Linked DNA regions of Homo sapiens: all the other regions are linked to region 1. Evidence: fine-mapped expression QTL. A gene starts in region 1. Each other region holds a variant in brackets. All regions are shown on one strand. Distances are from middle to middle.

What was found.
Region 2: its variant is fine-mapped to the expression of B3GLCT in lung (TOPMed, PIP above 0.99).
Region 3: its variant is fine-mapped to the expression of B3GLCT in unexposed skin (GTEx, PIP above 0.99).

Annotation. Positions count from the first base shown.
Region 1 is chr13:31,194,518-31,205,311 of GRCh38, reverse strand. B3GLCT (beta 3-glucosyltransferase) reads right to left here and starts at 5,337. Exons shown (of 15, transcript NM_194318.4): 1 at 5,158-5,337. The coding sequence starts at 5,227. RefSeq lists silencers at 4,377-4,626, 4,687-5,586, 5,637-5,696.
Region 2 is chr13:31,324,641-31,335,434 of GRCh38, reverse strand. B3GLCT (beta 3-glucosyltransferase) reads right to left here. Exons shown (of 15, transcript NM_194318.4): 15 at 3,159-5,934. The coding sequence ends at 5,767. Among named protein-coding and RNA genes, the nearest start is that of B3GLCT, 130 kb to the right of the region's middle. The variant T/C (reference allele first, on the strand shown) is at 5,731.
Region 3 is chr13:31,243,059-31,253,852 of GRCh38, reverse strand. It overlaps B3GLCT (beta 3-glucosyltransferase), which reads right to left. Exons shown (of 15, transcript NM_194318.4): 5 at 6,754-6,830; 6 at 5,887-5,998. Among named protein-coding and RNA genes, the nearest start is that of B3GLCT, 48 kb to the right of the region's middle. The variant G/C (reference allele first, on the strand shown) is at 5,323.

The DNA.
Region 1 (10,794 bases):
GTGCTGAAATTACAGGTGTGAGCCACCATGCCCGACCAGACACCCAACTCTTAAAAAAAAAAACAAAAAAAAAAAACCTACTCAAATTGCCACCTAATATAATGACCCCCCAAAATACCTTCCAGCCAGACCTGTCCTCTACAGACCCAAATATCTAACTGCTCACCTAACATGGTACCTGGCCATCTCACATGCATTTTGAACTCAACTTGTCCAAAACTGAACTTACTCAGCTTCACCTCCCCCTAAAATTAAAAGTCAAAGTACATTTCAAAAAATTGTGTAAGTACTTAATGCCATAGAACTATACACTTAAAATTCATTATACTTAATAAACTGTATGTTATGTACATTGAACCACATAAAACTGTTTTTAAAAACCTGGTCCTCCTCCTTCAGTGCCCAAGTTAGTAAACAGCACTACTACCCATGGTGGATGTGACAGAAATGTATGACTCATCCTTTCCCCCACCCTTTCTCCCAGCACACTGAACCTAATCAGTCCCAGAGTCTGAGAGATTATTAATCATCTCTCACAACCTGTGTCCAGCAGCCTCCTCACAGTTCCCTATATCCACAATGGCCCCCTCCAACTCCTGCTCCATCAGACAGCCAGAGTGAGTTTCAGGAAACGGCAGCCATATCACATACTGCCCCACTACAGCCCTTCAAACACTTCCCTCTGCTCTAAGGATGACCCCAAAATATGTCCCCTGATCTGCAAGGCCCTACCCAACCTGGCCCCTAATGATCTTGCCAGCCCTTCAGTCCTCCGTCCTTTCTCCACTTGGCTCCTTCACCACCAAGCTCTGCCACCCACTTACCTGATTTCTGCTTCCCTTTCGGGTCTGAGCTCTAACGTCACATCCTCTAGGAAGCCTTCCTTGACCCTTACCCCACAGTTTCTCAAGCTTGCCACTGTTGGCATTTTGGATCCGATAATTAATTGTTCGATGGTGGGGTGGAACTGTCCTGTGCCTTTGTAGGATGTTCAGCAGCACCCCTGACTCTAGATGTCAGTAGCACCCTCTGCCAAACCAGCCCCTGGGATAACCAAAAAGTATCCAGACAGCAACAAACGTTCCCTGGGGTGCAAGATGGCTCCCTGTTGAGATCCATCTCCCCAGTCTAGGCAAAAGCCATCTATCTCCCTGCAGCATGTTCTCACAGCATCCTGAACATCTCTTCCACAGCATTTGGCACAGACACGATTCATTCTGTAGTCATTACTGCTTAACATCACCTTGCCTTTCGGGCTGCAAGCTCCCCAAGGGTAGAGACAGACTAGATCTGTCTTGTTCCTGCAATATCACGATGCCTGACACACAGTAGGTACCCACATTACTCTGAATAAATGAGAGGCTTTGGGCAGTTTTTCTTTTTAACACTATTTTTAAATTGACATTCTTCTAGTAGTTCAAGTCAACGCCTACGTTAAATCAGGTTTCTTTGGGAGTTGCTTAGTGACTAGAACTTTGAAATCATGGTAGTAAGGAAGAACTTCCTCAATAGGTCTGATGAACCCTTGAAACTCACAACTTTTCCTTTATCATGGAAAAGATGAGATTAACCTATGGGGACTCCCATATATTGTTCTTAAGAAGTAATCTGTGCAAAGCCAAAGATGGATCACACATAATGCTACAAGAGGAAAAACAGAACATTTGCAAATTTTCTCTAAGTAGTACCTTTATGCCTAAAAATTATGCTTGCTTGCTTGCTTCATAATGAGTCTAGTAAAACACACCAAAAAAACCTGGCTCCAAAAGAGCCAATTATAAGGAAGTGCTCAAATACCGAGCCCACAATGTTTGTCCCGCAGGAAGTTACCAAAGGGGTCAAAGCACCTCCTTCGAATTCACACTGCTATTTGAAACAGATGCTCTCCCTCCCTCCCACTGGCTTAGCTGTTGGCTACTGGCAAACTCCCCTGGGTCAAGTCCATGACCTGGGGAGCCATGCCAACTCGGAGGTCCTGGACTACCTGGATGACAAAGAATCCATCCAGAAGATTAAAATCTGTGCCAGTAATATCTGCATACTGCTTAAGAAATAAAGAGAAGGTTTTAAGAATCAAAAAACACAAAACAACCTGGAATTAGGTCTGACTCTTGGTGTCCTAAAATTTCTGACTCATTGCAATGAAAGGAATCTGGGCAAGACCTGGCTCAGAATGAAAAACCATCCCCAATTTTGGCAGGTGCTAAGAAATACAAAGTTGGCTCACACAGGGAAGTGACAGACAGGCATGTGAAAAATAAAAGCTAATACCTATTATTTTATCAATATCATTGGTTCGAATAAGCTTCTTCTATCAATTAGGATTAGGTTTGGCAATAGGATTAGGTTTGGCTGCATATAATCTCATGCAATACAAGTCTGCAAACAGGAAATGCAGAGCTGACATGATGCTCCACATCCATCTGGCATCCAGGCTTCTTCTATCTTTCTCTTCTACCATCCTTACTACTGGCTTCCATCTTCAAGGTCACCTCATGGTCACAAGATGGCCACCATGGCTCCATCCCTCAGATCCACTTAATAGGCAATGGGAAGGAGGATAACACAGAGCAAAAAGGCCTGCATCCCAGCTGAGTCAGCCACCTTGAATGAGCTTTACCAGGAGCCCCACCAAACAATCTCTAAAGATATCTCTGTAGAGCACTAGCTGCCCCTATATGCAAAGGCCACTGAGAAATGTCTCACAGTGCTGCTGCCACCGCTGCCACCACCACCCCACCATCCTTCCCCCCAACCCAGATTATATTAGTTTTGTTAGGAAAACAAGGGCTAAAGGGTTACTTCGCAGGTGGCTGTCAATCTCTGCTACAACGGGATCAGTATGTTAAAACTGTAAGAGGTGGCAAAGTGCTAGTATTCTATCCAGTCCATTCGCCCTGTTCATATGAGAAAACTGAAGCTCAAAGCCACTAAAAGCCACACAGCTAACAAATGGTAACCTGGAGGCCTGACTCAATCTTCTCATTCTGAAACTGGTGCCAGACTTTAGAACCAAAGTTGCAGTGAACCGTGTCTGTATATGCATGTGGGTTTAAAAGAAATTTTCTATATTGACTTTTCTCTAAAAATATAAACAAATATGCTCTAGTTTGTGGGGAAACTAAACTATATAGTCAGGCCAATCTTATATGGGAATATTTAAGGTATTTATAAACTATCAAGATTGTTCACATGTGACAGAACGCCTGTCACATTCTGTTTCAGCAAGATTCCAAGAACATCGTAAGTGGGGACATCTTTATACGTGTCGGTGCCCTTCCCCTAAATCGAAGCAGAGCTCCATAAAAGGTATTCATGATTCACTTCAGACCTCGAAGAATACAGCCTCCCGTCTGTGCCAACCCATGAAAGCCAGTTCCCAAAGGCCAAATGTCTCACAGGGACCTTTTAATGCATTTTATGTCTTATTTATTGTGCTTATCTGACAACTTCACAAGGCTAATAGACATCTCTAAAAATGTGTTGACATCTTAGTGCATTCTGAATGTCCTTCAGTGTATTATCAAATTTGGACAGTGCAAATATTCCCCTGGGGGTAATAAAAAATAGACACAGCAATACAAATGTGCATTTCAGCCCATATGTTGTATATATTATATACAAATATTATACCCCCAGTACAGCATTATAAAGTGCAGTGCTATAAATAGAATACCAATTTCAGCTACCACCCACCCATTTGGTTAGTTGCAAAACATCCAGGCAACAAGCCAACTGATGCAGCCAGGAGTCACCCAGTCGCTTTCCCAAACCTCCAACCTCCCTTTCTCCCAGGGCTGCCACCCAGCAATGCCCTTCTTCCACTGAAGCCGATTCCAGCCAAATTCAGTCGCTCCCCAAGACCAACTACAGCCTTCTCTGCCGGAGGTGCCCTAATATTTTTAATTACACTGCTGCCTAATTAATCATGCATGTAAACAATTACCAACTAATCTTGCTCTTTTCCCACACTTACTGAGCGCCTATAGAAATGCCAGAAGTACACAAATGCAGCAAATTAATCCTTATTCAGAGAGCTTAAATACAAATAAAAACAGGCTGTCAAGGTTCCGGTGGGCTAACAAGAGCAGTGCGCAATAACGCTACGTCTTTTCCTAAACTGCACCATTCTGCCATTACTAAAAAATCTGAAATCATTGCCTTTTCACACCAGCAAGTCTGGGTTAGAGGACAAAAACTCTGTAGCAGTCTGAAAAAAAAATAATTTTTCGCTCAAGCTTTCAAAGTTGAACAAATCTGATCATGAAAGTCAATTACAAGGCTGCTTTTTTTTTTTTTTTAACTTTTATCACATCGTTTTAAGATAAAGGGGGGAAATGCCCTTGCGAGGAGAAAAGAAATAAAAAAGAATGGGCATTACAGCAGCAGGAGACCGGGCAAGCACTGCTCTGCTCGCAGACGTGTCCCCTGATGTCCCCAGCGGAGACCCGAGACAGGAGCAAGCCTCCCCGCCGCGCCAGCTCCCGCGGAGGCCCAGCGGGCGCCCCTGTCCTCCTCCGGGTCGGAATCCGGGAAGGGCTGGCGCCGAGCTGGCCGCTTATCCTCAGGGGCCAGGGCACGTCCCGAAGGCCCTGCGGAGGGGCGCGCGGACACCGGGACCGCAGTCCTCGCCCCCGGGGGTCGAACAGGAGCCGCGGGGCCTCGAGGGCCGCCTCGCCGGCTCCCGTCCAGCCTCCCGCCCGGCGCGGGGCGCGCAGGACGGCGGAGCGCGGGCGGAAGGCAGGGGGGCGGGACCGCCGCCGCCGCCACTCGCGCTGTTGCAAAGTTTCTTCGGTGGCACAGTTCCTGCGCGCTTCCTGTGGGGGCGGCTGCTGCGCCCTCGCCGCCCCGTCGCCCGCCGGTTCGGGGCGGCAGAGGCTGGGAGACGCGAGTCTGGGGCCGGGGCGGCAGCGGGGACCCAAGACCGAAAGGGGCCGAGCGGGCACGCCTCGGGTCCCGGGCCCGGGTCCCACCTGGGCGCCGCGAGAGGGCGCTGCTGACGGCGCGGCGCGGCGGGGACCGGACGGCGGGACGCGCGCGCCGGCGGGGCAGGGCTGGGCCGCCCTGCGCCTCCCTCCCCGCGCCGACCGGGGCACGGGCGACTGTGCCCGCGAACCCCACGCCTCGCCCTTGCGCGCCTGGCCGCCCGCTACTTACCCAGGGAGCAGGTGAGGAGCGCGAGCAGCGCCGGCGGCGCGAGCAGCCACCAGCAGGCGGGCGGCCGCATCCTGGCGGCGGAGGCTGAGCGCCCTACCTGGGCGCGGGGAAGGGAGACGCGCGGGGAGCGGAGCTGCGCCGCTGCCGCCGCCGCCCTGCCGCCGCGGCTGACCCTTCTCTGCCGGCTCCCCTCCTCCCTCCGTCTCCGCCGCGCCATCGCCGGCCGCGCCCTCTGGCGGCCGGGAGCGGGAGCACCCCTGTGCGCGCTTCCAGCGTCTGCCGGGCTGGCGGCTGCGGCTGGTGTCCGGCCCGACGGGCTGCTGCGGTAGAGGTGGCCGCGGCTCTGCCCTCACGGCGCCCTCCTTCGAGGCGTCTGACCTCTGCCCCCTCCAGCCACCAGCCTCCACCCCTCCTCTTCCTTTCTCCTCTGCGTCCCTCCTGACCTAGGCCGCGTCCCCTGCCTTCATGCCCTCCCACCTTACCGCGTCACCCCCATCAGTAGTTCTACCTGTGAAGTGGAAGCGAGCAGTAATCACTTTTCCTCCCTGCTAATGTATTATCTGCTGTGGAAAAAAAAATGTAATCAATAGTTCAACTCTTAATATTGTTGGCACCAATGCTCTACTTTGATGAAGGTGTTTTTAATCAGCTCAACTAATTTACTTAATATCCCCTTTAAATGGAATTTGGCCAATAGCCTAGGTCTGGGATTTGGCTTTTAAACAAGTTTGTGTAAATGTAATTTTCTATAAATGTAATTTTAAGTGTTCACCATAATGGAAGAGAGTGGGTGTAATTTTATTCAAAATATAAAAATTAATTAAACTGGAATACAGAGAAGTGGAGCAATGTGGGAGTGCCTCCTGTTCCCGCAGGACTGCGAAGGGCTTTCCTCCCCAGCCCGGTAGAGTGGTGGCCCTGATAGGGGACTGGTCCTGTTGTGTTGTGTGGTGCACTGAAGGGGAAAGCATTACAAGTAAGAACTAGAGGCTCCCTTCAGTGGTTCTGAACTCCTTCGTGCCTCCCTCAAGCCTTGGCTCACTTCTGTTTCCAAGGAAGTGCACAGGACCAAGTGCTTTTCCCAGCCCTAGTTTAGCCCATGACCTCTTGAAGGCAGTTTCTATGTTTTCCTTCATATTTACTCATTTGTTGGATACCTACTATGTGACTGCAACTCTGCTAAGCACCCTAGGAATGCCAGTATCTTTCACATGGACATACAACATTCACCTACTTGCTAAACATTTAAGGAGGAGGAGGCCCTGGGAGTACAAGTAGGATGGCCCTGGGAATACAAGTAGGATGTCCTGGAGACAGAGAAGCAGGTGCTGAATAAACATTTGTAGGCTTGAGCCCTCTTAACTTGAATGCGTTTAGGGGACTTAGGCTCTAATGCATTAGGACAGTATTGTCTGCAATTGTGCAATACCTGCTGGGATTGTTTTGAAAAGGAGGCCTGGAGACAAAGAATTTTCTCTCTGTGTGGTTTATATTGACTTCTTAAAACTGGGAACTAAATATTTCACGTGTGATCCATTTAGTGTGAGTGCAAATAGTTCCCTTTTGTTCCATTCGCCCAAGGTTTATGGTCTCTTGTCAATACCATTTTGATGGGAGGAAAAAGAAATGTAGGGATCCTTCCATTTCATTTCTTAGTGAAGCATTTCAAATCTATGGTTGACTGAATTCATTGCTTTTATCCTTGGGAAATTCTCAAGCTTACCTGCCTAGTAGTTCTAGATTGTTTCCAATTTCCAAAGCTGTTTTCGCTTTTTTCCAAGAAAATATTCCTTGCATATGTGGGGTAGTAAACATTTAACCAAACTGTTTAATTAGACACAGAAGACTAATAAGCAGGGTCAAATGCCTACTCCACGTGGGTAAGCAACTCCTGGTGCTTAATCAATGTTTTCATGGAAATTCATCATGTTAGAGTATTACTATGTTCCAGAACAAGGTGTGGAAAATTAAGCCCTAAGGACAACAGAGAACACACCGTTTAAGTAATAAACTTGCCCTGGTGTCCTTCCTTTCCACAGTAGACATAGATAAATGGCACATTACAAAGCTCCATAACTCACATTTTAAAAAGAATTGCCTTTCACTTACTCTAGTCATATGATAAATGGACTTGCTGGGAGTTCTCTCTCCCAATCACATGTCAGGAGAGTTTCCTAGAGCAACGTACTGATGAGGATACTAACAGATACATGATAGGCACTGCTTGCCTATAACATTGACTGTAAAGGAACAACTCTAAGTAGAAAAAAAATAAATCCTATAAACTTTAAGATTGTGATATGAAAACAAGCAAGCCATCTTCTTGGGATTTACTCAATCCCAGCTGTCACCTCCATGCTGGCCCCTGAAACTTTCTTTGTTGAGGGACAGGGGAAGAAGCAAGGAGCCATCTTTTGTTGGGGAAGGCACTGTCGCAACCTGGTTAAAACAGACTGGTAATTTTACAGATAATTTTCTAAATACTAAAGGAGAACATAAAGACATACTAAAACCACTGAGAGCCAAATAATCTAATGAACAAGTTCCAAACAGATGGTTTCTGATCTTACAACAGTTATCCTTGAGGCCCAAAAGGCTGAACTCCATTCATTCAAATGATAGGGAGCACCTCTAGCTGATGTGCCCTTTGCTAAGCTCTGGGGCAGATATTAAAGAGCATAAAACATGGTCCTGGGCCCAAGAACTCACGGTCCAGTTTGGGAGACAAAAATGTTCATAACTAACTTTGCTACCTTCTTATAAATGCTATGGCATGCGTAGATCAGCACACTTTGGAACACACAGGGAAAAAAAAATCTCTCAGGGCCTTTGGAATCTGTAAGAAAAGAAGCGACTGTTGCACAGGATCTTAAAGGAGAAATAGCAGGTTCCTGAGCTGAGAAAGGAGGACAGGCGCCCCAGGCTGAGGCACAGCACGAATGTGCAAATCAACAGTAGTGTGGCGGGTGGGGAGAGGGGCTGCAAGGAGGAACAGCTTCTCACTGTGCCCCCTCCAGCCTGCTGCCTCTCTCCTGTGACTTGGAAGGGGCCTCCCAGGCACCCTGTTTCTATACTAGCAAAGCCCAAAGGGCATATTCCAACTCTTCCCACTCTCGGTGCCCTTTCACTCAGTGTCAGGCCTAAAGTGGATTAGCAGTCAACACAATTCAGGAGGACTATTCTCTTCCTGCATAAAACAGCAGGTTTATGAATTATGAGTGGTCTTGAGGATTATTTTCCAAACCTAAAATCAGGTCTTAAGGTTTAATAGTAAAATAGAATGTCTAAAACAGGGTCTCCGGGACTTAAGGTCATTATAATATCAGACCTATGCTACAGTACTTTAATCATCTGCTCACCATCCTCACACCCCACAATCAGTGCACACTAGGGGGTTACAGGAGAAAGACTCATCACTTGTACCTTACGCTTTAGCGTTTTGGGAAGGAAGATAATCTATGATCCCCGTGGAGAAGAGGGAGACAGGAAGAGAAGAGAGGGAGCAAAACTTTCATCACTCAGAGAGGACCCAGAGCCACAGCCCCACTGCATGTACTCAGGAAGAATCCTTTGATGACATACGGTGGTTTCTTTAATGCCCTCAGGGAGCTTGTCTCACATTGCTTCCAAAGCTATTCAAAAATTATAGGCAAGGCCAGGTGCAGTGGCTCACACCTGTAATCCCAGCATTTTGGGAGGCTGAGGCGGGTGGATCATTTGAGGTCAGGCATTCAAGATCAGCCTGGCCAATGTAGTGAAAGCCCATCTGTACTAAAAATATAAAAATTAGCTGGGCATGGTGGCGCACGCCTGTAATCCCAGCTAATCAGGAGGGGGAGGCAGGAGAATCGTTTGAACTGGGGAGGTAGAGGTTTCAGTGAGCCGAGATCACGCCACTGCACTCCAGCCTGGGCGACAGAGTGAGATTCTGTCTGGAAAAAAAAAAATATATATATATATATATATATTTAGGCAAAACCCATTCTGTCAAACCAAACTTTCAACCAAGATTTTTATTCAAAGAAGCTTAACAAAGGGATTCTCACAGCCTAACAACCCTGAACCAAAATCCAGGAAATATAACAGGTTACCATCTCAGCAGACCCCCCAGGAAAGCCCAGAAATCTGAAGCCATTGACATTTGAAGACACAGAGTGATATAAAGCCTGTCTACAAGAAAGCTATCCTAGAAACTTCTAATCAGAAATAGATGATCTACTTGGCTGTTTCGCTCTCCTTTGTAGAATCACATATCCTTCTGTTCCCAGTAAAGATCAGGAATCACTCATAGCAGGCATGACAGGAAGTGTCTGCATTTGACTTTCACTAAGAACAGAAGGCGTGGGGCATGACTGTTCAGCAGCCCACACAAAATGTGTTGGTGTTTTTGGTGCTGTTGCTAATAAGTAGTTGTTCATTTTACAACAGCTGCTTTCAGATGTAGGATCTTGCTTAATAAGCTCAACAAAAATTTTATGTGTTTGTGACGAATGTATCACGGACTAACTGCATGTATGAGGCCCTCATATGGCATGCTGAGTTTGGAGGAAAATGCATTTTCCTGGGGGAGATCACAGTCTAGTTAGGAGGACCAGGACATACAGAAATAGCCATAAACCCTCCTGGAACATGGAAATCCCCTAAGAAGCGTACGAACAAGGGCAAGGAGAAGGAAAGCACATTCATCAGTGGGGCTGCATGGGGCCTCACCGAGATGGCGCGGTTGCCAAGAGAGAAGGGGAGAAGGCATTCCAAGCAGAGGAGACAAGCAAGAAATGCCATGGAAGACCGAGAGTTCAGAGACTGAGGAGCTGTTTAGTTTGGCCAGCACGAGGGAACATGGAGGGGAGGCTGGTTAGGACCGTACCGAGCAGGGGCTTGGGCACCGTGCTAGGAGAATGGCCTTCCCTTGAGTGGGGCAATGAGCAGTGGATAGATGGAAGGATGTTTCAGCAGGTGATGACCAAAACCTCCACTACAAGACTGTAGCTCGTAAGGCCTACCTGGTGTCCTAACTCGGCAACCCCTATCAGAAAAATAATGAATATTTCAATTGTGATGAATTCACATGATGAACACTCAGTTCACGTGAGTTGGGTACTGATTTAATGATTGATCAGTGCTGTGAGAAGTTTAATTCAGTGTTAATGTTGTGGATGGATTAGAGAGGGGAAAGAAAGAAAAAAGACTGGCTAGAAAAAATTATGAGGAAAGGGGAAATGAAGGAAAACTAACATGTATGTACTGAACACATGCAGTAGCTAGGCACTCTGCCAGTTACTTTCTTTTTTTTTTTTTTTTTTTTGAGACGGAGTCTCGCTCTGTCGCCCAGGCTGGAGTGCAGTGGCGGGATCTCGGCTCACTGCAAGCTCCGCCTCCCGGGTTCACGCCATTCTCCTGCCTCAGCCTCCCAAGTAGCTGGGACTACAGGCGCCCGCCACTACGCCCGGCTAATTTTTTGTATTTTTAGTAGAGACGGGGTTTCACCGTTTTAGCCGGGATGGTCTCGATCTCCTGACCTCGTGATCCGCCCGCCTCGGCCTCCCAAGTTACTTTCAAATATATTATTTCAGTTAACCCCACACCAAAAAAAGAAAAACCTATGACAGGACTACTGTTCCCACTTTACAAGATTAG
Region 2 (10,794 bases), 130 kb before region 1:
TCTCCATTGTAATGAGTCAACTCTGCCATAGACAATATGCAAACAAATGGGCGTGCCTGTGTAATACAATTTTGTTGACCAAAGCAGGTGGTGGCCTGGATTTAGCCCATGGGCAGCAGTTGGCTGAACCCTGGCATAGATGTTTGGTTTGCTTTAGTAGAAAATGCTGAGAATAATTTTGCAGTGTGGCTATTTAGTACTCTTAAGCAATACTTTATAAGAATTCAATACATGCTTCACATTTTTGTCAACACTCAAAAGTATCAAGTCTCTTTAGTTTTGCCATTGTTGTAACCGCATAGCATGTCTCACAGTGGGTTTGTGATCTCATTAATGATGTTGAACACTCAAAATACATGTATTGGCCATTTGTATTTCCTCTCTTGTGAGGTGCCTGTTCAAGTGTTTTGGACATTTTTGACTGCGTTGTGTCCTCGGATTTGTAGGAGTTGTATTGGCTATGAACCTGTATTATCTACTGCTGCATAGCAATATTACTGCAAACTTAGGGGTATAAACAAACATACATTTGTTATTTGACAGTTTCTGTGGGTCAAGAGTCTCAGCATGGCTTAGCTTGGTCCTCTGCTTTAGGATCTCTCACACAGCTGCAATAGATATGTTGGCCAGGGCTGTGGTCTCATCTTTTGCTTAAATGAGGAAGGATCTTCTTCCAAACTCATGTGGTGGCAGTGTTCAGTCCCTTGTGGTATACCGCTTTCCAGTCTGCTTCTTGCTGCCTGTTGCCTACAGGTTACCCTTAGTTTCTCACCATGTAGGCTTTCCCAACATGACTGCTTGTTTCCTCAAAGCCAACAAGGAAGAGTATCTCCTCATGAGATGAATATTACAGGCTTATGGAACAGATTCACATACACATAATCACATACATCCCATATCCAATTAGTTAAAATCAAGTCACATAGGTCCCATGAAAACTCAAGGGGAGAGGATTACACAAGGGTATGAATACCAGGAGTCAGGGGTCATGGGGACTATTTTAGAGTTGTCTGCCACAGAGTCTTTGTCAGATATATCATACATATCTTCTCCAGTCTGTAACTTGCCTTTTCCTTTGATAGAAAAAAAATGTTTTATTTAAAATAAAATCAAATGTATCCACTTTTTAATTTTGTAGATAGCGTTTTGTTGTTGTTGTTTTGTAGAGTCAGGGTCTCATTACATTGCCTAAGCTGGTCTCGAACTCCTAGCCTCAAGAAATTCTCCTGCCTCAGCCTTCCAAAATGTTGAGACTGCAGACGTGAGCCACCACACTAGCCCTAGATAGTGGCTTTTTATTACCTGTTTAATAATTCATTGCTTACCTAAGATCATGAAGATATTTTAGTCTGGTTTTCCTCTAGACTAGTGTTTCTCAACCTTGACAATACTAAAATTTGAGGCTAGATAATTCCTTGTTAATTCTTCTCCTGTGCATTGTAGGGTGTTTAACAGCATCTCTGGCCTACCCATGAGATGCCAGTAGCACCCCCTTCCAGTTGTGACATTCAAAAATCTTGCCAAATGTCTCCCAGGGCTAAAAGGCCCCCAGTTGAAAAGTACTGTTCTTAGATGCTTTATAGCTTAATCTTTGAATATAATGTCTGTAATCCGAGTTAGTAGTTGCTTCATATTGTTCCATATATCTAATTTCTCTACATTTATTGAAAAGATCATTTCCCTCATGAACTGCATGTATCACCTTTGTCTTACATTAAGTAATCATATTATATATGGATTCTGCTCAATTTACCTAACTTCAATCGTCATGCCAGTAAAACACTTGAGTAGTTTTTTGGTAGGTCTTGAAATCTGTTCTTGTAAATCTTCGAATTTTGTCATCATAATTGGCTTGGCTATTCTCGGTCCTTTGCATTTCCTTCTATATTTTGAACCAATTTGTCAATTTTTACACACAAAGTCTCAGATTTTTACTGGAAATAAATCTGTAGATCAATTTGAGATAATTGTAGTCATAACAATATTGAACATTTCAGTACATAAAATGATAAACCTTAGTTCCTTTTTAATATCTCTCAAGATTTTCTGGTTTTCAGTGCAGAGATCTTGCAACTATTTATTTCTAGATATTTCTAGATGCTTGCTAATGCTTTCCGGCTTTACTGAGGTATACTTGACACATAAAAAGTGTATATACTTAGTGTACATGATTGTATATATGTATACATTGTAAAATGATTGCCACAATCAAGCCAATTAGCATATCCATCCATTCCTGCTTTTTTTTTTTTTTTTTTTTTTTTTTTGGCAGTGGTGGTAACATTTAAGATCGATTTCCTTAGTATTTAATATTTGTAAACCATTGTAAATAACATTGTTTCCCTAATTTTATTTTCAAATTGTTTGTTGCCAGTATGTAGAAATACAATTATTTTTTATATCAGTCCTGTATCTAGTGATCTTACTAAATTCATTATAAAATACTTTGGATTCTGTTTGTATGCAATCAAGTCATCTGTAAATATCTTTTTACTTCTATTTACTCTTTATATAATTTTCTTTTCTTTCCCCTGACTGGGATCTCCTAAACGATGTTGAATAGAAGTAGTGATGGTAAACATTCTAGTCTTTCCTCCAAATTTAGGGGGAGAAATAATTCAATATGAAAGCATTAGGTATTTATGATACTTTTTTCTGTAGATACTCTTTATTATATTGACGAATTTACCTAGTTTGAGAATTACAAGGTTGGCTGCTGAATTCTGTCAAATGCTTTTTTTCCTCCTTTTTTGCGCAGCTATTAAAATGGTTATACAATTTTTCTCCTTTATTCTATTAATGTGGTGAATTACTTGATTTTTGAATGTTACAGTAGCCTTGCATCCCTGGAATAAACCCATTTGGTCATGAGTTACTATCCTTTTTATGTATCCTCTTTTTACATATTGCTGATCATTTTGTTTAGGATCACTGTCTTTTATGCTCATGAAAGTTGTTAGTCTGTGATTTTCTTTTGTCAAGTTTTGGTGTCAGAGAAACTTGGGTCTCATAAATTCAGCTGGGAAATGTTTCCTTTTTCATTATGCTCTGAAAGAGTTTATGTCCCATAAACATAGTATTTCATCTTTGGATGCCTGGAGAATATCACCGATGAAACCATCTGGGCCTAGAGTTTTCTTTGTAAGAAAGTGTTCAACTTTTCATTACATAATAAAGTTTTTATTTAGTCCATACAAATTACATCTCTGATTATGAATGGAAGACAATAGAAACATTCTTGAAGATGTCAATTACATTAATTTTTGAGGATATATACAACAAGAGGTCTTCAATAAACCCAGAAATGCAGACAGCACTGATATTTACATACCCATACATAGCATCATTTGTGATTTAGCATGCTATTATTGTTTTCTGCTCCTAGGCATTCTAGAAAGGTTATTTTCATGTCTGGATTTCTGATTTAGTTTCAAGATGTAAAAATCCTACATAGTCAGACAACCTGCTTTGGCTATATCATCAGAAATGGCTTAAAAGCAAAAATGACATTCCAGTTATTCCACACACAAATCCCTGATGTTAACATCCCTAGCCTAAAAATAGCCATTTGGAAGGAAAGCCCTATTTCAAAGCAAAGGAAATGTGAGTAAGACAATATCTGGTCCTGGAAATGTCAGACTCAAAATTGAGTTCTTTAGATGGGAATCGATTCTAAAATAACATCTCTGATTTGTTATATAACAAAACACAATGGCTTTATAAACTTTATATAAACATTATCAATTTCTGATGGTTTTCTCTTAAAAGGGTAGCTCTGAAGTAATTATTCTCTCTTTAAACTGTATTTACTGAGCCGCTGACTTTTTTCTGATTTCATTCATTCATTTTCCCCATTTCCCCTCCCCATTCCCAGTCTAGACTAATGAACACAATATTTGAGAAATCAAAAACTTAGGCAAAGATCTTTTACTTGTGGTTAGGCTTACACCATTCCAAAAAGTAAATATAATTAACAAAACACTTAAAAGTACCAGAGGAGGTGCCCCGGTATCAGTAGAAGGCACTAATCAGACCACAGAAGAAAGCTTGACAAGGATCTTCATATACGGATGCCAGCTTCAATCATGTCAAATGAACATGTTGTTCTCTCAGTGGTAACAGTTAGTAGGCCAGAGCAGAACTGGAGACTCTTTTCCACTGGTGTAGGCAGCCAGGGCTCTCCAGGAGTACTATTATAGATGACATGAAGGTGACTACCACGGTAGCAATGACAACAATCCCAGTTACAATGACTGAACAAAGCTAAGGCCATCAGTATAGGCTTGAAGCGATCTAGAAATCCTTCTGGAGCCTCTCATCAGCTGATCATCCCTGATACATCCCTTGGATGGCCACAGAATCCATTTTCACAAAACTGAATCCAATGCATTGTGTTATCACTGCAACACGTGAGGTCTGGTAGTTGCTAATTTGGAAAAATGGTAAATACTAATACTATTGCAAATAGTCAATCTATGCTACAAGAAAAACATATTAACACACACAGGTACTTTTGGTGGTATGGCTTTAAATTCTGTGCTGGGCTATAAAAAGCATTATAAGCAAAGTTAATGAGTAACAGTTTTTATTAAAAAGAAAAAAAAGAAGTAATTTACCAAAATTAGTTTAAGACATATTAAATTTTATGCAAATACCTTTACAAAAACTGAATTATATAATTAGAGTGCTTTTTATACATTAATACTGAATATGTTACATTACTATATATTAAAGATATAATTTGAAAACTAGAGCTGTTTCAAAATACTGTGTTCAAATGTCATTCTTTGGGAACCCAGAGAAATTGCCTGATCACCATGCTGTCCTTCCACAAGGGGTTTCTCTCCTGAGTCAGGAGAGAGTCATTAAGTAACATTTAAAAAAAAAAAAAAAACAAGAGTAAAACATAAGGTCCAAATTTAATTCACTTCCTGAGACTCACATAGAGCTTGCTGACTTGAACAAAACATGTCAACATTGTTTTAAAATATTGAGGACACTATTTTCTGGCAGCATCTACTACTTTCATGTTACAAGTAAGCCATAAAGATAGGGCTTCAGGGAGAAATAAAACACAGATGAACTTCCAAAGCAATACGAAGCTCTAGCAGAAGACCTCATTCTCTTTTTATGAGGCACAAACAGCAAAAGAATAGACAAAACATAACCACCATGATTACAGACTTCAGGGGATTTCATATCTAGGGTTTCATGATGTTTTATGTACAGTATTATTCCTTAATACGGTATTATTCCTACTGAGTTCCCAGGAAATAATTTTCATCATCAATAATATGGTTTAAAAGTTCATACCATTCACAATATCCATGTCAAAAGACTTTCAGTCTTCTTTTTATATATACAAATAGAACTGTAGACAGTCACATCTCTCCAGGCTCATGCCCAACTGAAACTTCCATTACAATGAAGAGACAGAACAGGAAAGGGACTTCTGGTACCATTTATTTCCCTGTGACAATAAAAAAAAACTGCTGTATCACAGCTTGGAGAATACACAGTCATCACTAAGTGTTAAAACAACTGCATAAGTCAAAAGCAAGTGATTTTTCCCAGAAAAAAAAATGTTTCTCCTGTGACCCCTTTTCTTCCTCTGTCAAAAAATACCATACATAAAATCTCCCCCTAAAGTCAGGAAGCACCCAATGCCATGTGGCAGACACAAGTGTTGTGAGCACAGCACAGTGGGATGAGGCCACAGTCTCCAGTTCA[T/C]TCCCTGCGCAGGCTAGGCGCACAGGTCACCCTGATTTATAACTCCTCTCGAAAACCTTTCTGTGTCTCCTGCCTGGCTTTGTCTTCGTCACTGGGTGCCAACCATGTGAAATACACCTTCACTGGATCGATGTTCCAGTGTTTGTGGAACGATATGGGAACTTGATGAGAAAGGTAGTCCTTAGGGTAATCCACCGGCCGAGCCTGCAGGAAAAATAGAGAGTTAGGCTTCCTTGTTGATTGAATATAATTTTGCTGCAGAAGAGCATTTGAATTTATAAAGTGGACTGCTTTACTTCACTACCTAACATTGGCTATAGGAATCTAAAAGCAAAAAGGAAACTATTTTCTGATATCTTTCTTCTAACTCCAGGTGCTTTGCTTTTGTGTCTCCAATTACCTTAATACCCCAAATGCACTGCTTTTTGCTTCTATGTTCCATAGTCTTGCCTCTGGGAGATTCCTAAACAATAGTAATAAATACAAAAAGCTTTCTTTGATAAGCCATTTAAGTTACTATTATCACTTCTGCACAAAGACAGAAAAACTGTTATGTTCCAGGTACTTCTAAGGAAACTGGCCGTAAGTTTGTTGTGGGGGGCTGGGACAAGGATTTCTCAGATTTCCCTTGGCCTCTCTACTGCTCTAATGTGTAATTAGGTGATGTCATTCGAAGAAAGAAAACAAGGAGCTCACTCGGGAGGAGGATAATGTAACTCATGCTCTCTTCCTGACCAAATATCTAGTCTAGTTCCAGAGGTGTAAATGAGAATTGCAAGTAACCCGAAATAGTTTGTGAAAGGACCTAAAAAGTTTTTATATTATCTACATTGCAAAATTTTTTAGAAGTTAGAAAATAAAACTTAAGCAGAACTAGATACAGGTTAGAATAAGATTGAAGAAGTAGCATATAGGGTTAGAAGGAAACTGAAATCAGATACTATTTTGTTTTCTCTAAGCAAAGTATCCAGTTTCTCTCGGTAAACCTTTTTTTTTTTTTTTTTTTTTTTTTGAGATGGAGTTTCACTCTGCTGCCCAGGCTGGAGTGCAGTGGGGCAATCTCAGCTTACTGCAACCTCTGCCTCCCGGGTTCAAGCGATTCTCCGGCCTCAGCCTCCCAAGTAGCTGGGATTACAGGCATGCACTACCATGCCTGGCTAATTTTTGTATTTAGTGGAGACGGGGGTTTCACCATGTTAGCCAGCCTGGTCTCGAACCCCTGACCTCAGGTGATCCACCTACCTTGGCCTCCCAAAGTGCTGAGGTTGCAGGCGTGAGCCACTTTGCCCAGCCAGTAATCATCTTAAATTTGTTTATTAATTTATATGGGCCACTGTTTTATAAAGTAACTCATTAGGTCATCAATACTAAAATTGTCTTGACTACTAAAACTAGATGTGATGCATTTTAAAAACAAGTCTTTTGTAGGCTACTTTTTTTATTACAGTCTGCCTAAATCTTTGATATGAATACTTAAACTCACTTAAATGGTTTACAGAATACCTTTGTTAAATTTTGCCTTATTGAATCCTAGAAACAGCCTTATAAAATGGACAGAATATTATGGTTCACTTCCAATTTACCGCTGAGAAAACCAGAGCTCCCAGAAGTAACATGACTAGCAAACACTGGAATAGAGACCAGAGAGAGGTGCTCAGCCCAGGGCCAGTGCTCTGCCAGGACACCGGCTGCCTCTGCTCAAGCCATCTTACCGCCGGTTGGGCACACTCAGCAGCACCTGGCCTAACCTAGCTTCACCAGTACAAATATACTGCTCAGATGAGTGTTCCAACAATAATATCTGCGAAGAAAAGTTCAAAATAATCTAAGGGGAGAACTTTCACAATTGCTATTTTTAAGAAATTATAACTGCTCAGGGAGTTAAAAATCTAAAAGGAATTTTAAAAGGAAAAAACAGTGAGACAGACAAAAAATACACACTGGAATACAGTCTAACAGAGTTGGGAAAGTTTTGAATATTAGTTGAAGGAATTCATTTATTATACGACGTTTCTTTGCAAGGCCCTCTGAGAGTTTACTGGCAAGGAAGAAAACCAAGGAGAAACATCCTCTCAATTCCGTTAGAAGATAATTCCACAATGATCCCAGAAGAAAGAAATACAGTAGTTCCCCCTTATCCATGGTTTCACTTTCTGAAGTGTCAGTGTCCCACAGTCAATTTTAGTCTGAAAATATTAAATGGAAAATTCCAGAAATACACAATTCCTAAGTTTTAAGTTGCGGGCCCTGCTGAGTATCAGGATGAAATCTGGGGTGTCCCACTCCATCCCGCACTGGGCATGAATCCTCCCTTTGTTCAGCATCTTCATGCTGTCTACACTCCCTGCCCCTGAGTCGCTAGAAGCCGCCTCATTATCCAGTCAACTGCAGCAGTATCACAGTGCTTGTGTTCAAGGAACCCTTATTTTACTTAAGAATAGCCTGAAGCAAGAGTAGTGATGCTGGCATATGGTTATAATTGCTCTATTTTATTATTAGTTATTGTTGTTAATCTCTTACTCTGCCTACTTTCTAAAGTAAACTTGATCATAGGTATGTAAAATATAAGAAAAAACATAGTATACGTAGGGTTCAGTATAGCCAAGGTTTCAAACATCCACTGGGGGGATTGTGGAATGTATCCCCTGTGGTTAAGGAAGGACTACTGTAAAAGCAATGGAAACAAATCCTTGCTGGTTTTTCACCTTTAAAAATGAACTGTTGAAGATAGAAATGCATCTAACAGGAAAAAAAATAAACCATAACATTTTCCACTCTATTAATGCAGATTCTAGAAGTGATTTGCTGCATCTCAGGGAGGCTATACATGCATTAAAAGAGCTGGCTTATTAAACATTACAATTTACTGGTCATTTTTGACAAATGAGGTAATGGAAAAGCATTAGACAAAACCAGAAAAGTGAAATACATCCAAAATGGTATCTTTAATACCAAGAACTCTATGCAGCCTCTAATAATCATATCTCTGTGCCCAAAATGTCAAGAGGAAATCCCAAACAGGCAGGATGAGGGGTGGTGAAGAACTTGAGGAACAGACACAGAGTGTGGTAGGCATCTGCATACAGGAAGAGAGAGGGGCTGAAACTGCCTAAGAAAGACCTACAGCCAGGTGTGGTGGCTCAGGCCTGTAATCCCAGCACTTTGGGAGGCCGAGGCAGGTGGATCACAAGGTCAGGAGATCGAGACCACCCTGGCTAACACATGAAATCCCGTCTCTACTAAAAATACAAAAAATTAGCCAGGCGGGTGGCACACACCTATAGTCCCAGCTACTTGGGAGGCTGAGGCAGGAGAATCGCTTGAACCCAGGAAGCAGAGGTTGCAGTGAGCCGAGATCATGCCACTGCATTCCAGCCTGGGTGACAGAGCAAGACTTCATCTCAAAAAAAAAAAAAAAAAAAAAAAAAAGGGAAAGACCTCCTACATTGGGCAAAATTAGAACCTTTCATCTGTAAATACTGGAGCACACTAAACAGGGCAGCAAATGGAGATTAAAATCACATTTCCTTAGACAAGTGCCTTTCTATAACTGTATTGAAAAATGATTTCCATCCCATACAGTTTACCCACCATAACGGTGGTCTAAAACTTTTCGGGAAATTTCCAGAGTTGAGCAACCACCAATCATTGCACACTGCCATGTCCATTAGTGGCACATAATTTTGGAAGAACAGAAAACCATATGCTCTAGGTGCTGTGCTTTCAACAAAGGGAAATACTAGATTTTCCCTGGAGTCCCCTTCTAAATCTGCGAATTCACAATAACTTTCTCTAAAAACAGAAGAAATGTGACGGCCCAGGCAATTTTGCATATGAGACTGCTTCCAAATGCCCACTCTGTCTCTAGCTCATCAGGATTCTTAAATTTTATCTCTTTGCCTCATATTTCTTTGTGAAGATGAACAAACACAGTTTGGATCAGTGTTTAAACACTATAAATGGAAAGCACTATCCAAATCGTTACCAAACTCTCTAAAAGAGGCTTAAGAATTGGAAGATACAGCATTATCTGTTGGGGAGGATAGGTTTTAAACATATTTTATGATTTTGGAAAAGTTTAAAATGTATGTGAATTAGAGAAATCAAGGGTTCTAAAGTGGGGGAAACAACAACCTTATTTTTAAAAAAATTATCTTCAAAGGACTTTTGCCTATAGATGATTTTCCTTCTTTTCTCCTTATCATTTTATTAGCTAATTTATTCTTCCCTAAATGAAAAGGGCTGCTACAAAAATCTAAGACCTGTCACACTAACCTTGATAAATTATTTCCCTTATACACTAACAGTTTTAATTACCCCTTTTATTGCGTGACTGAAACACCATGAGACAGAGCAAGAGAGGGAACCGCAGAGAATAACGCTTTCTTTCCTAAGTCATCCTAACACAATACACAGGCTTAAAGTGGGTAAGACCTCTCAAAGTCCTAAAGGACAAGTAAGTATCTTCTAACTGACACCAGGAAGGAGGTTTCTCATACATTTCCTTATATTAAAGGTCTCTTTTTATCCTCTCTTATTGTCTCAAGGATACAGAAATGGATTCTGCCTTTCCTGATGATGCAAACACTTTCTTAGTCTTATTCGAGTTGTTTTCTATAGTATACTATTTCTGTCATGCTAAGTTTTCTATATTGCTATGATAATGTTTGCTACTGGTTACCAAATAAATAGAGCATGGGCCAGGTGCAGTGGCTCACATCTGTAATCCTGGCACTTTGGGAAGTCGAGGTGGGAGGATCGCTTGAGTCCAGCAGTTTGAAACCAGTCTGGGCAACATAGTAAGACCCCCATCTCTATAAAAAACTTTAAAAATTAGCCAGGCATGGCGGTGTGCGCCTGTAGTCCCAGATACTTGGGAGACTAAGGCAAGAGGATCATTTGAACCCACGAGATCAAGTCTGCAGTGAGCCACGTTGCAGTGAGCAAGACCCTATCTCAAAATAAATAAATAAATAAAAATAAATAAATAAGGCATAAAAAAAGTATTTTCAATATAAGAGAAGGCATCTAAAATACTTATGCATACACACTTCAAGTTTCAAA
Region 3 (10,794 bases), 49 kb before region 1:
ATCCCCTTTATCATTTTTTATTGCATCTATTTGATTCTTCTCTCTTTTCTTCTTTATTAGTCTGGCTAGCAGTCTATCAATTTTGTTGATCTTTTCAAAAAACCAGCTCCTGGATTCATTGATTTTTTTTGAAGGGTTTTTTTGTATCTCTATCTCCTTCAGTTCTGCTCTGATCTTAGTTATTTCTTGCCTTCTGTTAGCTTTTGAATTTGCTTGCTCTTGCTTCTCTAGTTTTTTTTTTTTTTTTTTTTTTTTTTGAGATGGAGTCTCACTCTGTCACCCAGGCTGGAGTGCAGTGGCACAATCTCAGACAACTGCTGCAAGCTCCACCTGCCGGGTTCACGCCATTCTCCTGCCTCAGCCTCCCGAGTAGCTGGGACTACAGGCACCCGCCACCACGCCCAGCTAATTTTTTTTGCACTTTTAGTAGAGACGGGGTTTCATCATGCTAGCCAGGATGGTCTCAATCTCCCGACCTCGTGATCCACCCACCTTGGCCTCCCAAAGTGCTAGGATTACAGGCATGAGCCACCGCACCCGGTCTTCTCTATTCTTTTAATTGTGATGTTAGAGTGTCGATTTTCGATCTTTCCTGCCTTCTCTTGTGGGCATTTAGTGCTATAGATTTCCCTCTACACACTTCTTTAAATGTGTCCCAGAGAGTCTGGTATGTTGTGCGTTTGTTCTCATTGGTTTCAAAGGACATCTTTATTTCTGCTTTCGTTTCGTTATTTACCCAGTAGTCATTCAGGAGCAGGTTGTTCAGTTTCCACATAGTTGTGCGGTTTTGAGTGAGTTTCTTAGTCCTGAGTTCTAATTTGATTGCACTGTGGTCTGAGAGACTGTTTGTTATGATTTCCGTTCTTTTGCATTTGCTGAGGAGTGTTTTACTTCCAATTATGTGGTCAATTTTAGAATAAGAGTGATGTGTTGCTGAGAAGAATGTATATTCTGTTGATTTGGGGTGGCGAGTTCTGTAGATGTCTGTTAGGTCTGCTTGGTCCAGAGCTGAGTTCAGGTCCTGGATATCCTTGTTAATTTTCTGTCTTGTTGATCTGTCTAATACTGACAGTGGGGTGTTAAAGTCTCCATTATTGTGTGGGAGTCTAAGTCTCTGTGTAGGTCTCTAAGAGCTTGCTTTATGAATCTGGGTGCTCCTGTATTGAGTGCATATATTTAGGACAGTTAGCTCTTCTTGTTGTGTTGATCCCTTTACCATTATGCAATGCCCTTCTTTGTCTCTTTTGATCTTTCTTGGTTTAAAGTCTGTTTTATCAGAGACTAGGATTGCAACCCCCGCTTTTTTTTTGGCCTTCCATTTGCTTGGTAAATCTTCCTCCATCCCTTTTTGAGCCTATGTGTGTCTTTGCACATGAGATGGGTCTCCCAAACACAGCACACTGATGGGTCTTAACTCTTTATCCAATTTGCCAGTCTGTGTCTTTTAACTGGAGCATTTAGCCCATTTACATTTAAGGTTAATATTGTTATGTGTAAATCTGATCCTGCCATTTTGATGCTAGCTGGTTATTTTGCCCCTTAGTTGATGCAGTTTCTTCATAGCATCAATGGTCTTTACAATTTGGTATGTTTTGGCAGTGGCTGGTACTGGTTGTTCCTTTCCATGCTTACTGCTTCCTTCAGGAGCTCTTGCAGGGCAGGCCTGGTGGTGACAAAATCTCTCAGCATTTCTTTGTCTGTAAAGGATTTTATTTCTCCTTCCCTTATGAAGCTTAGTTTGGCTGGATATGAAAATTCTGGGTTGAAAATTCCTTTCTTTAAGAATGCTGCATATTGGCACACACTCTCTTCTGGCTTGTAGGGTTTCTGCTGAGAGATCCGCTGTTAGTCTGATGGGCTTCCTTTTGTGGGTAACCGGACTTTCCCTCTGGCTGCCCTTAACATTTTTTTCCTTCATTTCAACCTTGGTGAATCTGACGACTATGTGTCTTGGGGTTGCTCTTCTCGAGGAGTATCTTTGTAGTGTTCTCCATATTTCTGAGTTTGAATGTTGACCTGCTTTGCTACGTTGGGGAAGTTCTCCCGGATAATATCCTGAAGAGTGTTTTCCAACTTGGTTCCATTCTCGCCATCACTTTCAGGTACAGCAATCAAATGTAGATTTGGTCTTTTCACACAGTCCCATATTTCTTGGAGGCTTTGTTCATTTCTTTTCACTCTTCTTTCTCTAATCTTGTCTTCTTGCTTTATTTCATTGAGTTGATCTTCAATCTCTGATATCCTTTCTTCCACTTGATCGATTCGGCTATTGGTACTTGGGTATGCTTCACAAAGTGCTTGTGCTGTGTTTTTCAGCTCCATCAGGTCATTTACGTTCTTCTCTAAACTGGTTATTCTAGTTAGCAATTCCTATAACCTTTTTTCAAGGTTCTTAGCTTCCTTGCACTGGGTTAGAACATGCTCCTTTAGCTTGAAGGAGTTTGTTATTACCCACCTTCGGAAGCCTACTTCTGTCAATTCGTCAAACTCATTCTCCATCCAGTTTTGTTCCCTTGCTGGTGAGGAGTTGTGATCCTTTGAAGGAGAAGAGGTGTTCTGGTTTTTGGGATTTTCAGCCGTTTTGTGCTAGTTTCTCCCCAATCTTCATGGATTTATCTACGTTTGGTCTTTGAAGTCGGTGACCTTCGGAGGGGGTCTCTGAGTGGACGTCCTTTTTGTTGATGTTGATACTATTCCTTTCTGTTTATTAGTTTTCCTTCTAACAGTCTGGTCCCCTGCTACAGGTCTGCTGGAGTTTGCTGGAGATCCGTTCCAGATCCTGTTTGCCTGGGTATCCCCGGTGGAGGGTGCAGAACCACAAAGATTGCTGCCTGTTCCTTCCTCTGGAAGCTTCATCCCAGAGGAGCACCTGCCAGATGCCAGTCAGAGCTCTCCTGTATGAGGTGTCTGTCGGCCCCTACTGGGAGGTGTCTCCCAGTCAGGCTACACGGGGGTTCAGGGACCCACTTCAGGAGGGAGGCTGTCCCTTATCAGAGCTCAAACACTGTGCTGAGAGATCCGCTGCTCTCTTCAGAGCTGCCAGGTAGGGACATTTAAGTCTGCTGAAGTGGCGCCCACAACTGCCCCTTCCCCCAGGTTCTCTGTCCCAGGGAGGTGGAGGTTTTATCTATAAGTCTCTGACTGGGGCTGCTGCCTTTTTTCAGAGACGCCCTGCCCAGAGAGGAGGGAATCTAAACAGGCAGTCTGGCGGCAGAGGCCTTGCCTCGCTGTGGTGGGCTCCACCCAGTTTGAACTTCCTGGTGGCTTTGTTTACACTGTGAGGGTAAAATTGCCTACTCAAGCCTCAGCAATGGCGGACGCCCCTCAGAATTACTTTTTGCAAGCACCTGTGTTTTATCTCTATTAAAAATAAATTTAGGCCAGGTGTGGTGGCTCCATGCCTGTAATCCCAGCACTTTGGGAGGCCGAGGCAGGCAGATCACTTGAGACCAGGAGTTGAAGACCAGACTGGCCAACAGGGCAAAATCCCATCTTTACTAAAAATTCAAAAATTACTCAGGTTTGCTGGTGCAAGACTGTAATCCCAGCTACTTGGGAGGCTGAGGCACAAGAATTGATTGAACCTGGGAGGTGGAGGTTGCAGTGAGCCAAGACTGCACCACTGCACTCCGGCCTGGGTGACAGAACGAGACTCTGTCTCAAAAAATAAAATAAAACAAAATAAATTTAAAGTCAACACACCTCATAAAATACACATATATTAAAAGCATACTGTGGTTACAAAGGAAAGACTTCAAACAACATACAAAAATTTATAGAAATCACCGAGGAAGGCAATTTAATAAAGATTAATAAAAGTTAAAAGTTTTACATTTAAAATATTTTGACAGTATACATTTGCATTAGTAAGAATGACTGAAAGATGATGATGGAAATAAATCAGAATCAAACAAAATACCTTATACCCTCACACATTACATAATTATTTTAATGTACTCAAAGTTTATTTGTGTAAATATCAAAGCCAGGTTTGCTTTATACTTTTTTCCCTTCAAATGGTAGAGGACAAAAAAATCACACTGGTTTGAGCTAACTTCAACATCATATAATCTTTATCATTTCTTACTGTTAGTCTCAAAAGAAATAAAGCATCCTGGATGGTTTTTTTTTACACATGGCAGAGTTCTGAAAAGAGGGAGAAAACATCTCCTTTTACCTCTGTTCTGTACTTGCTTTTCATGAACTTGCTTTGAACTTTTAAATTTATCATCCCAATTTTCATTAAAAAGCAAAGTGAGTCACCATCTCCTGTACAGAATTAGAGCTATGGATAATGGAAAAATAACCTCCAGGTGAAATGAACACTAGGAGGAGGTGAAAACTCCTACATCCTAAAAAAGATTTGGGAGTTTTTCCCAAGCCAAAAGGAAACATAAAAGCCTAACAAATGGTTTGCATAAAACATGGCAGAAAGTGCACAGATGCTGGTTAGTGTCATCTGAAAAGACTGGATGAGACAGGTTCATAATTCTTCTCTTTGAAAGAATTATTTTTTTAACCCAATGACCTTCTCATCCAATTATATCTAAAGCTTCCCAGAAATTAAAAGCATGAAGAAAAATCATAGTGGATCTTTCCAGCATTTAAAGATCATCAAAAGCAGTGGTTTCTATTATAGTAACAGGCTTTCCAGGGTTGGAGAAATTAATCTAACGATCACTGTTGCCCAGTGTTTGACATCTACATCAACAAACCGAGCAGAACCCAGAAGCTTGCCTTTTATTCCCCATGAGCTCATTACATCTGATTCATCTCAGGAGCGAGCATTCGAAGGTGGGTGGGACAGGTTTCCACTGGGACCAGAAAGGGCCCATCTCTGCTTATCTCAAGTTTAAAGAATTCCAAAAAGTGATCAGGTTGTAACCTGGGCTTCTTTCCTCTGAAAGAGAACTGAATGAGCTCGATTTACTCTTGACACATTTCCAAGGCAGCTCTCTAAACCTAACGAGCCTTTGAACATAGCCCAGCAGCAAAACTGATTATTACAGGGTTATAAAGTCATTCGCAAATATTCACTGACCACCTACTAAGTGTTAAACACTCTGCTAAGGGCTAGGGATTTCAAGGCAAACAAAATCCAGTTGCTCTATCAAATCTGCATGAAATAAAAACAAGATCTGAAAATGTAAAAGCAGTAGTGGACTTCACTGAGTTCCTCTAGTTCAAGATACATCCCTTCCCACCCCCATTCTTTCTCAAATCGTGTTCCCTCTGCCTGGTAGACCCTCTTTCTCTCTTGCTAACTCCTACTCATCCTACAGAACTCAGATTAAATGTCACTTCCTGTCCTGACCCTCCCAG[G/C]TTAGATTCCATGCCCCTGTTATATGCTTCTAACAGCACCCTAGTCTTCCTTATTAGAGATGTTTTCCTTCTAACCATAACTGCTTCTCTAATGGTCTGTTCTCCCTGCTATTCTGTGCCACCCACATGTTCAGAATCGCTGTCTGTTTTGTTCTAGCCTCCGCCATCCACAGTGCTCAGTATACAGCTGGCACTCAAAAAAAATTTTCTATCTAAAATAATATATGGTCACTGTCTAATAAGCAGAAATAGCCAACTTAAGTTTATTGCTAAGAAAAGCAGTTTATGAACTTCAAGTTATAGTTTCCAACTCTCTGAAATTGCTAACACATATATTAACAGATTTTTTTCATTTAAAATGGCTCATTATAAGCTCTGTCCCTCTATAAGCTACAAACTTCAAAGAGCATTACTTAACATATCTCAGATATTCAACAATGTTTCATTCTTTTTAATTTTAAACTAAGTGGTTTTTTATTAGATTCAAAAGCTTCTTAATCAAAATTAAATCTCCTTTGAAACACTGTCCCCCAAAATAAGAACTGGTATTGAAGTTATATTCACCTTAGAGGGGTCATATCTTCTGAGGGTTTCCAAGAGTTTTGGAATCTGTATTCTTGTCTCTTCTTCACAGAAGAAAATCCAAGATGAATTTCTGCTATATGTTACAGAAAAACTGACCAAAAGAAACAAGTTTCAGTAATCACTTCTGTAAAATAAGTTAATAATAAGGTTTAAAACTGATCAGTAGGAAGTGAATGAAGGGTACACAGAATGGCATATCTAATTTTTTTCTCTATATTTTTCTTCAGCTTATAGAAAAGCCAGATGCTAATGGTTTAAAAAACAGCTGGAGTTCGTAAAGTTAATTCTCTCCATAACAACACTAGTTCAGGGGATAAATAATTTTCAAATATCAACTTGAAGCATTTTATTCTTTAAGAAAAAGCATATATAGGGCAGGGTGTGGTGGCTCACGCCTGTTATCCCAGCACTTTGGGAGGCCAAGGCAGACGGATCACAAGGTCAACAGATCAAGGCCATCCTGGCCAACATGGTAAAATCTCATCTATACTAAAAATAAAAAAATAACTGGGAGTGGTGGTGCACGCCTGTAGTCACAGCTACTCGGGAGGCTGAGGCAGGGAATTGCTTGAACCCATGAGGCAGAGCTTGCAGGAGCCAAGTCACCACTGCATTCCAGCCTGGCGACAGAGCGAGACTCTGTCTCCAAAAAAAAAGAAAAAGCTATTCATGATTAAGAACCAATCATCAAGAAATTTGGTTAAGGTAGTAATCATAAAAAGTAAAACTCAAATTTACTTCACTTACTGACTGAGGAAAACCACACCCTCTTAATAAAAAGACTAAGGGCGTAAAAGTGTTCAGGTAGGAATGTCAGTAATTCACAGGTGAGTTAAACAAACGTACTGCGGTAACAACGGAAGTATGGTCCATGCACCTTCTTGTTTAGCCAGCTGATGAAGGAGGAGGACACTGGGGAGCTCCTGAGAAAACAATGATCAAAGAAGATAAGTATGAATTGACTACTCCGAAAAAAAGTAAAAAAAAAAAAAAAGAAAAGAAAAGAAAAGAAAAAAGAAAAAAAGAAAAGGCTTGGCTTAAAATGCAGCTGTTTCTAGAGACCTGACATGGTACTCTTCAAACCACTTCTTTTTCCTCATTTTCTCCAGGAGCTACTGGAAATGAAGTATTTTGGCTGAATCCATGCAACCTCTACACTCTGCACCACCCACACACCCAAATAGAGCTCAAGACCTACAAGGAGGGTCTTCCGTGACTCCGAGCCAACCTGAAATCTGTGAAGGTGACTTGAAGGGAAGAGCCTGGGGGAAGTAGTCAGGGATAACTCAGAGGCACAGAAGCAGTTTTTTATTTTATATACAACATATGGAACATGTGAAAATGAAAACCCTTTGGCTAAACTAGAGGATACAATATTTGATCTACCTCATGTGCAAAAATTACTTTACTTTTTAAAGTTCTCTAAACACATTAAAATACCCTGATAACAAAAAGTTTTGGTCGAGAAATGTAATCCTTAATTACTCAGGCAATAACAGGAATAGCATAATAATGGAATTGACAAATTTATAAGCATAGGAGGAACTAAAATTCAGAAATAAGGCACAACTGTGCTTACATAAATTATGTATACATATATAAAGAGAGATTAATATTTTTAAGGCTACGAGTGTTAGCTTTGAAGCAAAACACTATTCCCTATATTTCAAGTTGTTACAAAAGCCAAAAGTCAAAAATTTCATATCTCATATGCTTAAACCTCCTCCCCCAACAAACTTTATTATATCCTGTGTTTTATACTAGCCATAAAACTATATTCCTAGTAACCATTACAGACAAAAGAATTCAAGAACAAGTACCTAAGTATCTGAAACATTACTGCACTGATGTGGATTTCACAGCTGTCTTAAAGTTCATAGATATTTATTATTTAAGAAGAGAATAGTCTTTAATGTAAATCTTTGGAATTAAATTTCAAGTAAATCTCATTTATTTTATATAATATTCATTTCAACTTCCATGTAGAAATATGAAATGCAAAAAACAGTAATCACAGGTTAAATCAGACAAACAATGTGGTATGTTAGAAAGAGCAAACCTTAAGGCTGAATTAGCAGTTACCCAATATAAATAATTCAGGGCCTTCCTACTGTTACTTCTGAATTATGCAGTAATTTTCATTGTCTTTTTAAAATTCCAGCAAATATATATATTCATGAAGGATTACATAAGAGCAGAAAATCATGTGTAAAGAAACTAATGATGTTACTATTTGCATAAAACTTTGGAATAATTATGGGTAAATGCAAATGTGAGCTAGACAAGAAAAGAAATATAGCAAATACTTTTTAAAGTTTTACATAAAAGTAGCTAATGAGTTATTATGTATCAATTAAAATTATGATGAAAACTTTATAACAACGGAAATGTCTTTATGTTTAATAGAAAAAAACCAGACATGATTCCAAGAATAAAACAAAATCCTAGATGAACAGAGACTAGAAGAACCAGGAAGTGAAAATATTTGTGTCAAGATGATAGAACAATGAGATATATGCTTTAAAAATCCTTCAATTAAAACATAGCTAAGTTTTTTAAACATTGAAGGAAAATGAATGCACCTCAAAAATTTACTTCCAAACAAGTATTATACTTCCTAGTTATAGGATATATATATAATGTAATATCAACAGCTATTAACTGAGAAAAGGCTTCCTTTGATACCTTGACGGTAACCTCAGCAGAAAGGCTACAAAAGCACTTTCCTGGGAGAGATTAGAAGACAAGCTTATTAATAATTTCTGCCACAACATAAAATGTGGGAGGCAAAGGTTTAGGTAGTGCAAACAAGGAATCACATCCTAGATTGAAATAAACTCTATGGATTATCAGTAGATTAAAGTCATTCATAGCTCCATTATATTTGTTTAGTAAATCATATACTAGATTTCATATTTGCTTCAGTTTGTGAACACAAGATCAGTCAAATTTTCTGTCTCTCTGTATCTCCATATAACAACATTTCAAAAGCTAGCATGCCTTGTTAATAACACTCTCCAAAGGTGAGTACTCAAAAATACAAAGTAGGTGCTACTTTGGCACTCAGAAACCTGCTCTTGATTAACTCTTGATTAAGCCAAAGTCATCTTAATTGTAAATAAATTTTAATCTACTAATCCCCAAAAATGCCCAAGAGCTTTTATTCTTGTCATATACATATACACACATATATACACATATATATATATGAATGCACACAGAGACCCAAACAGATGTAATATTACACTTAGATGTAGTAGCACCTTAAAGGTAATTATCAAAAAGGGTGCAATAAAATTTTCTATCAAATGATCTTATCTCAGTTCCTACCACTTAGGATTATAATAATTTATGTTCCATCTATCGCCATCATAAGATTTAGATCTCCTTAAAGGTAGTGTCACTAAATGATACCATTTTTAGATTCAAAGCAAGTTTTTATTTTTATTTTTGGAGACAGAGTTTCGCTCTTGTCACCCAGGCTGTAGTGCAATGGCGCAATCTCGGCTCACTGCAACCTCTGCCTCCCAGGTTCAAGTGATTCTCTTGCCTCAGCCTCCCGAGTAGCTGGGATTACAGGGGTGCACCACCACGCCTGGCTAATTTTTGTGTTATTAATAGAGACAGGGTTTCACCATGTTGGCCAGGCTGGTCTCGAACTCCTGATTTCAGGTGATCCACCCGCCTCGGCCTCCCAAAGTGCTGGGATTACAGGCATGAGCCACCGTGCCCAGTCTCAAAGCAAGTTTTTAAATAAGTAACTGGCTGAATAACTAAGAAATAGTTTTCAAATTAAAATTCAAGGGGAAAATAAGAAAATGTTATATCAACATTACCAAGAGCTGTCTGGAATAAAGACATAGTAAAGGCATTCATGCATGCAACAACTGTCGTCAATCTAAATGATGCCTAATCATGCTACTATTTCAAACCTAAAAGGTAATTCAAAATTCTCTCGATAATGAGATAATGCCGTAACAGGCAGGCATAAAGGAGCTAAAAATACAAATGATCAAATATGGATAAATGACAGAAAAGGGAAAGAAAATGAAAAGGTCGCTTGCAGTAATTTAAACTTTCATGTCAACTCTATTTATCTCTTTGAATTAAAGTCTGCCTTTATCAGCATCCACTGGTATCATAATCACTTTGAAGACAGGAAGCCTACTGAACTTTCAGTCGGTACTTCCTTGGAACATATTTGTTATCAAGGCATGAATTCATATTTAAAGCAGCTAATAATTATTGAGAGCAAACAAATTTAAAACCAACATTCTAATTCATTAGTTGGTTCTTATACATATTCATCATCCTCATTTGGGAAAGGGGTTTGATTCCAATATCACAGCTGAGTATTCTCACAATATTTTTAGAATGGAGAAGGGTCATTATTCTTGACATGGAGGGGAAATCATTAAAAATTTATATGTAGAAATATTAATAGTATGAATGAAAAAGCTAACATTTGAACATGGATTAAAATAGATGAATATATAAAATATCATAAATAACCTTAATTATTCAGCAGATTTGGTTTTGAACCATTTTAGTTTTTCTGCATGTCTGGAAATAATTCAACAATTAAACTACATGGTGCTGGTCTTTCCCTTGTCAACAGACTATTTGCCAGTATTTGTCATTTGTCCTTAATTTAACCTCTAAACCTAGAAGTACATGGGTTTATGGTCTCATTCAGTTTTATTATTCAGACTACATGCTAAACTAGAAAGTAAGATCAGCATTAGGCAAAGGTTCTAAAAAACTGAACTTTTAAGACTGATTCCATTTCAACTGTTTGTCTAAATTCCAACTATTACATCATTCTGAGGCACTGAACTGAGCTTTTAGAACAACAAATAAATTATGGTGAAAATTAACATCTGTTTA